Linked DNA regions of Homo sapiens: region 2 is linked to region 1. Evidence: fine-mapped expression QTL. A gene starts in region 1. The other region holds a variant in brackets. All regions are shown on one strand. Distances are from middle to middle.

Region 1 (4,397 bases):
AATTGATATATGCTCATCGATATGACTTTCATCTACATAGTTGTGCTAGACTTACTAACAAATAAGTTAGCAAACCAGCTCAGGGAAAGCCTGGATTTCTAAGAGGTCTATGGTTTTAAAGGAAAACTTCAAACGTTTGATTACTCACACTTCTCTTTCCTTTAATGCGCTGGGATCCTTCTTTTCTTTCTTTTTAGGTTTTAATCTATCCTTTTCTTTACTAGGAAGAAAAAGGTAAATTAAATCCAAGGGAGAAGAAAAACCACAGCAATTAAAATCTCAAAAATCTAAAGTTCCATTTTTTTTTTTTTTTGGTCTACTGAAGAAATCCTACTTTGTGATATCCTCATGTTAATATCAGCATACTCTTTCTGAGCAAATAACTCTAGTGCAAAGCACAGTACCTGGAAGTATCAGAATTAACCAGTAATGCCAATAATGCATAAGAATTGTTAATGAGTAAATAAAAGCTGATTATACTATATTTATTTTTTAGTCAGAATCTCTCACATCAAGGATCACAATCCACTTCCAAGCAATGGGTAAAAGGGTGACAGTTATCTTCTGAAGATTCAGATGCTTTAACTTTTGGGGGAAAAGTATTACCCCATATGCTTCTTATAAAGGGCTAAAATGTAAAAACGCATATACAGAACTTAACCCTTAACTAGAAAGAAATTATTATTAATGGAGTGTCATTCCTAAAAATTACACAATACATCCACACTAAAGGCTGAGAATAATAATTCTGAAGGTTTTAACGACTATTCTCTTATTCTGAGACTCTTTTTTGTATTTTTAGTGGAGACAGGGTTTCACCGTGTTGGCCAGGCTGGTTTTGAACTCCTCACCTCAGGTGATCCACCCGCCTCAGCCTCCCAAAGTGCTGGGATTACAGGCGTGAGCCACTGCGCCCGGCTTTCTGAGACTCTTAAACTCAGTGAAGATCAGTCTTTATTTAATAGCTATGCTTATTCTACACTTAAGCAGGGACACCGCTTTGATCCTCTTCATACTAGGGAATTTCACTTCACTTTCTTCTTCCACAGTGATTTGGATTCTTATATTAGTAAGACTTATAAAATGGAGATATCTTGGAGTTTTCCCATTTTCTCTGACAAAAATATTTGAGTACCAGGCACTGGAAACGCCAGACAAACAAGGTCTCTAACCTTGCCATCTTTCAACAAGAAACACTCCCCTCGCCCCACCCCAGGGGAATGTAGTAGTGTAATGGTAAAAACATAAAGAGAACTATACGGACTTCACCGAACTGACATGAGGTTTAAATGCGATATGGCAGACAAAGCATATAACGGTAGAAAAAGTGAACACTTAAGAAATGTTTAATTCCCATCGCCTTTCCCAGTGTGATCGCTCAGCAGCTAAATTACTGTTAAACACTGGCTATCTCATGCTATATAAATCTAAGACACGATAATAAGCAAAAAACAAAATAATAACAACAAACATTTTTACTACTTATCCTCTCTAGACTCTTATTAGAATATCCCTGGGCAGTTGATTCCAGACACTCACAGCCTCTGATCTCTGAGACTAAGCATTCGCTTCATGGTCGCATACTTCCTTGTTTTCTTTTGCTTCCCCTTGAAACAGAAATTTTAGAATTAAAAAAGTTGGAAACACACGGCATCTTTTAAAGTCTCTTCTTTTCTCTTGTCTATTGCCTTCCCTTCTTGCCTCAAATAACCCAGACCCTCTTCCCCACTCTGTAAAGCATAACAGTCACCGCTTGGAGAAGTTTAAGAGCTAAGACCAGAATGAAAATATGCTAGGATAATGTGAAGGAAATTTGGCCACGGTCTGACTACCTCCTTCTCCACCCAAAAAGTGGCCTGATAACGTCCCTTCTTGGACCGTCTTCTCTCACCATGGTCACGCCAAACTCCTGGTTCTTCCGTAATCACCAACGGCGCAATACTTCTACGTCATTCACATACTGCTTCCGGCAAAGGATAGCCCGGAAGCGGAAACTCCTTGGGGAAAGGGCAATCCCCCGAGCCGGTTCCCAGGCCGGGTGGAGACCAACTCTGGGGTCTGTTGGTGGGAGAGTGGGGAGCCCGTCTTCTGCTGAGTGCTGCCGCCCCTTCCCAGGACAGCGGAGGTGGAACTTCGTCGCGCTGCAACCCCCGGCTCGGGTAACGTTTCTCTCCAGCCTTAGGCAGAGCCCAGAAGACCTGCCTTTACCAGAGTTCCAGAGAGAGAGGGAGGAAAAGGGTAGGGGGGTTCAGACTCCTGGTTTGCCCAGTAGTTTGGGGGAACACATTCTCCTCACCCTGTAGCGTTGGGGTATCCGGTGTCTATGGTCCAGCCCTGAGGCTGTGGTTCCTATTTGGTTTTCCTAGCCGATATGGTGCTTTGTGCAGCTAGGTGGATGATTGTTCTCGAGTATATACCGTGTACTCCTCTCGGTGAAGAGAGAAATGAAGCAGTGTTTGAGGGCCTAGACTATCGCTAGAGAATTGGGGCATAAGCTTGCATATGTTACTACTTACCCAAGCCAAGAAAATGGTGAGATACAATGCACATTTATTGTGAAGCCTTGGTGTGTCATCTTTAAGTAAAAAGGGAGAATTTGTGAGAACAAGGAGCGAAAGGTAGCTTTTTTCTTTGAGTACCTGCTATGTATTCCAGTGGTTCTTAACTTTTTGGAGATAACTTATTTCTTGAAAGTTTGTGGAAAGCCAGGAACAATTCTTTAAAAAATGGGCACACATACAGTTTGTAATACACTTAATGAGATTGGTGGACTCTGAAGCCCATCCGTGGACCCTCTGGGTGTCTGTAAACTTTAAATGAAAACCCCCATCCTGTATACTGTACTTGTCACTTTATTCATATTACCTTCTTTGACCTTCTCAATAACATAAATTCTTTTATTTTACATATGGGGAAATTGAGCCCCAGACTTTGTTCAGGGGTCTGTTTGAGTCTCGTGATTCCAAAGTCTGTACTTGTATTTCTTTTTTTCTTTTTCTTTCTTTCTTTCTTTCTTTTTTTTTCTTTTTTTTTTTTTTTTTTTTTTTTTTTTTGCACTTTGTCTTCCATTCTCCAGCTACTGATCAAGCTGGGAACGGAATGGGTACCTCTGTCATACTTTTCTTATTGCATGATGCTATCCTAGAGTTGGAAGTAAAATATGTTATCAGGTTTAAAAAAGAAGGTGACCATTGTATAACCCTTATGATGAAAACACGTTTATTGTTTAACACGAACTTTGGAGTCTGACTGATGGGGTTAAAATCCTTGCTCTGCCTTATAACTCGCCATGACATTGGGTGAGTTAATCTATCTGCATCTCAGTTTCTTTATCTGTAAAATGGAGATAATCATAGTAGCACTCTTTTATTGGGATGTTATCAGGACTTATGTTTATTCATAGTTAACATGCGAGGTCCCTAGAAGAGTGTAAACCAGACTACTCAGAGTGTTTTCTGTTGTTACCATTGTGTGTCTTCCAACTTGAGGATGTGTGGCAGGGTTGGAATTTTATGCCAATTTTATTTTATTTTATTTTATTTTATTTTTGAGACAGAGCCTCCCTCTGCTGCCCAGGTTGGAGTGCAGTGGCGCAATCTCGGCTCACAGCAACCTCCCCCTCCCAGGTTCAAGCAATTCTCCTGCCTCAGCCTCCCGAGTAGCTGGGACTGCAGGCATGTGTGTGCCACCATACCTTGCTAATTTTTGTATTTTTAATAGAGATGGGTTTCACCATGTTGGCAAGGCTGGTCTCAAACTCCTGACCTCAGGTGATCTGCCCACCTCGGCCTCCCAAAGTTCTGGGATTACAGACGTGAGCCACTGTGCCAAGCCCCAATTTTTTTTTTTTTTTTTTGAGACGGAGTTAGTTTCGCTCTTGTTACCCAGGCTGGAGTGCAATGGCGCAATCTCGGCTCACTGCAACCTCCACCTCCCAGGTTTAAGCGATTCTCCTGCCTCAGCCTCCTGAGTAGCTGGGATTACAGGCGTGCGCCAACACGCCTGGCTGATTTTATATTTTTAGTAGAGACGGGGTTTCTCCATGTTGGTCAGACTGGTCTTGAACTCCCGACCTCAGGTGATCCGCCCACCTTGGCCTCCCAAAGTGCTGGGATTACAGGCGTGAGCCACCGTGCCTGGCACCAGCCCAATTTTATTTTAACATAGTTGCACTGGAACTTGAACGTGTTCATAAACCTCAAAACATTAAGTTTTCAGGTCCTGGGATGCTCAATCGCAGGGTGATTTCTTCTGTTGATTTGGGTGTAAACTTTTTCTGCTTCTCCTTTCTCTTTCAGGCACACATTCATTTAGATGGCTTAATAGTTTACATATCTGTGGGCACTGAATTTTTGATGTAGAAATGGTAGCTACAGATACTGTATGTGCCTTCTGCT
Region 2 (4,397 bases), 59 kb before region 1:
GGCGGAGGTTGCAGTGAGCCGAGATCACGCCACTGCACTCCAGCCTGGGCGACAGAGCGAGACTCCGTCTCAAAACAAAAAAAATACAAAAAAATTAGCTGGGCCATGGTCGCAGGTGCCTGTAATCCCAGCTACTTGGGAGGCTGAGACGGGAGACTCGCTTGAACCCAGGAGGTGGAGGTTGCAGTGAGCCAAGATCGCACCACTCACTGACTCCATCTCAAAGAAAACAAAACAAAACAAGAAAAAAACCAATACTCTACTGTGTACTGTGTGGCCAGATGACTTTGCCTAATGTAAACTTTCTGAGCACATTTAATAGCTAGGCTAAACTATGGTATTCAGTAGGCTAGGTGTATTAAATGTTCAACTTACATTATCCTCAACTTACAATGGGTTTATTGAGATGTAACCCCACTGTAAGTCAAAGAGTATCTGTACTTTTACTATTCAACGTAAGAAAACAGCACACTTGGCCAGGCACAGTGGCTCATGCCTGTAATCCCAGTACTTTGGGAGGTCTAGGCGGGCAGGTCACCTGAGGTCAGGAGTTCGAGACCAGCCTGGCCAACACGGTGAAACCTCGCCTCTACTAAAAATACAAAAATTAGTAGGGTGTGGTGGCACACACCTATAATCTCAGCTACTCCGGAGGGTGAGGCAGGAGAATCCCCTGAACCTGGGAGGCGGAGGTTGCAGTGAGCCGAGATCGTGCCATTGCACTCCAGCCTGGGCAACAGAGAAAGACTCTGTCTCAAAAAAAAAAAAAAAAAAAAAAAAAAAGAAAGAAAACAGCACACTGACCATGAAAGCCAAAGCCAATAATAATAATAATGTAGCATTAAAACACTTCCTTCCATTATTTTAATACTGAAAACATCAACAGACTTATCCTTCAGTTTTAAAAAAATTAGTACATTCTCTTTCAAGTAGAAGTTAAAAGTTTCCTTTTTTAAAGTTGCTTTGAAAGCATTATTAAAAGATACAAAGATGCAAACTATCTTTCACAAACTAAGCCAATGCTACAGATATGAAGACTGTACAGAATGAAAACTGTACAGGTCCAGATTCTTTATCAGCTTCTTCATCACCTATTCTCATGCTTTGTCTTAGATCCAGACCAGGGTTAAGAACTTGTTAAGGGCTGAAGTACTTGTTGATTCACTGACAGTATGCCTTGTAGGTCAATTTCTCTTTTTTTTTTCTTGAGATGGAGTCTCGCTCTGTCGCCCAGGCTGGAGCGCAGTGGCGCGATCTCGGCTCACTGCAAGCTCCGCCTCCCGAGTTCACGCCATTCTCCTGCCTCAGCCTCCTGAGTAGTTGGGACTACAGGCGCCCGCCACCACGCCCGGCTAATTTTTTATATTTTTTAGTAGAGACGGGGTTTCACCATGTTAGCCAGGATGGTCTCGATCTCCTGACCTTGTGATCCGCCCACCTCAGCCTCCCAAAGTGCTGGGATTACAGGCGTGAGCCACCGTGCCCGGCCGCCTTGTAGGTCAATTTCTATTTAATATGAACCCTATAAGTAGTAACCAGATCTAATTCAATCCTATGGTAGGCTTCAGCACATTTTTGAAGCTCTGCAAATAAATAATAATGATATCACTCACAAATGTCCTTACTGACCCTAAGAGAAGTGTGATCATCCCTATTTTAGAAAGAAAAAAAATGCCTGAACTTGCTAATGATGCCAGCTCTTCTGAATGTCCCATCATATCAGATAACTCCATTTCATATGGGATGTTGTTTTATAGGTAGAGGGAAATCATAATATAGGTCACATTTAAAACGAGATTGAATGAAGGGATTTCAAACATAAAGAATGTAGAACTATTGGCTGGGTGCGGTGGCTCACATCTGTAATCCCAGCACTTTGGGAGGCCAAGGCGGGCGGATCACAAGGTGAGGAGTTCGAGACCAGCCTGACCAACATGGTGAAACCCTGTCTCTACTAAAAATACAAAA[C/A]TTAGCTGGGTGTGGTGGCACATGCCTGTAATCCCAGCTACTCGGGAGGCTGAGGCAGGAGAATCGCTTGAACCTGGGAGGCGGAGGTTGCAGTGAGCCCAGATCCTCGCGCCACTGCACTTCAGCCTGGGTGAGAGCGAGACTCCATCTCAAAAAAAAAAAAAAAATTAAGAATATAGAACTATTTGTCACAAATACTGTTATTAAGAAAGATGCTGCCGAGGCACGAATATCGCTTGAGCCCAGGAATTCAGACCAGCCTGGGCAACATGGCAAGATCCCATCTCTCTGAGAAAAAAAAAAAAAAAAGAAAGATGTTGATTTTAATTTACTCAGGAAGCACTTACTGACCACTGCTGCTAGTAATGAACTAGATACTAAATGATTTTCCAAGTGGAGAACTATAAAGGAGGTGAGTGTTTGTGTGTAATGTTTTAAAGATTAATTTTAGAAGATTACCTTCCCTATCCAGGTTATCATAAATGCCTATAAGACAATGTTCTATGTCTTATATTCTAAAGCAGGGGGCAGGGAGGACACCTGGTAAAATAATGAATTGGGTTTCCATTTTAGAAATTTATTTAAAATAGGCTTAAATATTTTTGAGATTCACATTCTACTGTAAGAATCAGGGTCACCAGATAAGCTTAGTCCCCACCTATTTTTATTTTAAATGCTCATTTACTTCATCTATTCCTCCAGCTCCTTCCCTCATTCTCTCTCTCCTTCAGTCAAACTTCTTGAAAGAGTTGTCTGTACTCACCATCCCCATTTCCTCACCTTCCATCACTCCTCAAATCAATGCAATATGGCTTCAGTCACTATGAAACTGCTCCTGCCAAGGTCAACAATAATCTACATGTCAGTAGGTGCAAAAGATAACTCGCAGTCTTTATCTTGCTTGACGTCTCAGCAGTACTTCACACAGCTGACGACTCCCTCCTCCTAGAGTCTGTTCCTTGACGTTCATGGCAACGCACTATCCACTATCTTGATTTTCCACCTATCACACTGGTGCCAAAGTAACTGTGGTTTTGCCATTAAAAGTAATAGCAAAAACTGCAATTACTTTTGCACCAACCTAATATGAATACCTATTTGGCCATTCTTTCATTGGTTCCCTTAGATACTGCTATTTGTGGAGCTAGGCTTAATGTCCTTTAACCTCAGTTCTTACTCTACACACATTCCTTGAGAGGCTTCATCTATTTCTGTGTCTTCAAATACCATTTTTATGCTGATGACTTATAAATCTATGTCTCCCAGATCTTACATCTAGACTCCAGAGCTATATCTAACTTCCAAGTGGACATCTCCATTTGGAATCTATGTCTCAAGAACCCCAAACTCAGTATGTCTGAAACCTAACTCATGATTTTCTCCTCACCCCCAGAAATGTTCTTCCTCCTCCTCCTTTAGGTTTTTCTGTTTTAGTAAATTTGACCACCATCCACCCTACGGCCCAGCCCAGAAACCTAAGAATCATTCTTGATGCCTCCCTCTCCATAACTACTCAACCTCAAAGTGAATTCTAGCAGCTAAATATTTCTCCACTCTTCCCACTTCTCTCCATCTCAACTAATACCATCAAAGTCTAAACCACTATTATCTCTTGCCTGGATTACTTCAATAACTATTCTCTCTAAATCACTCTTGCTCCTTTTAATTCTGCTCTCCACACTGCAAGCAGAGTGAGCTTTCAAAAATGCCAATCTGTCACATTCACCTATGTAAAATCCTTCAATGGCTTCCAACTGCCCTTAGAATGAAGTCCTTACAGGCCTTCCCTGATCTAGTTCATACCTACCATCCTCACCCTGAGCTTTCAGTGAGCCTTATTGAACTTAATTCTTTGAATTCTAACTTCTGGTTAATTTCTACTCTTTTTCTTTTTTTTTAACTGAGATGGAGTCCCACTCTGTCGCCCAGGCTAGAGAGCAGTGGGGCAATCTTGGCTCACTGCAACCTCTGCCTCCTGGGTTCAAGTGATCCTCCCACCTCAGCCTCCCAAGTAGCTGAGATTAAAAGCGTGCACCACCACACCCAGCTAATTTTTTGTATTTGTAGTAGAGACAGAATTTCACCATGTTGGCCAGGCTGGTCTTGAACTCCTGACTTCAAGTGATCCGCCTGCCTTGGCCTCCCAAAGTGCTGAGATTACAGGCATCAGCCACTGCACCTGGCCTACTCATTTTTTTTTTTTTTAGGTCTCACTCTGTTGCCCAGGCTAGAGTGCAGTGGCACGAGAACTCCTGGGCTTAAACAATCCTCCCACCTCAGCCACCCGCAAGTAGCCGGCACTACAGGCATGCAACACCATGCCTGGCTAGGTTTTTTTTTTTTTTGAGTCGGAGTCTCACTCTGTCGCCCAGGCTGGAGTGCAGTGGCGCGATCTCGGCTCACTGCAAGCTCCGCCTCCCGGGTTCACA

The links. PIP is the estimated chance that this variant, and not a neighbour inherited with it, causes the effect. A credible set is the group of variants that fine-mapping cannot tell apart.
Region 2: its variant is the best candidate, but not a certain one, in a credible set for the expression of AREL1 in whole blood (TOPMed, PIP 0.71).

What each region holds. Positions count from the first base shown.
Region 1 is chr14:74,710,695-74,715,091 of GRCh38, reverse strand. It overlaps AREL1 (apoptosis resistant E3 ubiquitin protein ligase 1), which reads left to right and starts at 2,012. Exons shown (of 20, transcript NM_001039479.2): 1 at 2,012-2,159. It overlaps FCF1 (FCF1 rRNA-processing protein), which reads right to left and starts at 1,948. Exons shown (of 8, transcript NM_015962.5): 1 at 1,892-1,948; 2 at 1,540-1,607; 3 at 149-220. The coding sequence starts at 1,894. RefSeq lists an enhancer at 1,835-2,114.
Region 2 is chr14:74,770,098-74,774,494 of GRCh38, reverse strand. All of the region lies in intron 1 of YLPM1 (YLP motif containing 1), which reads right to left. Among named protein-coding and RNA genes, the nearest start is that of YLPM1, 9.0 kb to the right of the region's middle. The variant C/A (reference allele first, on the strand shown) is at 1,969.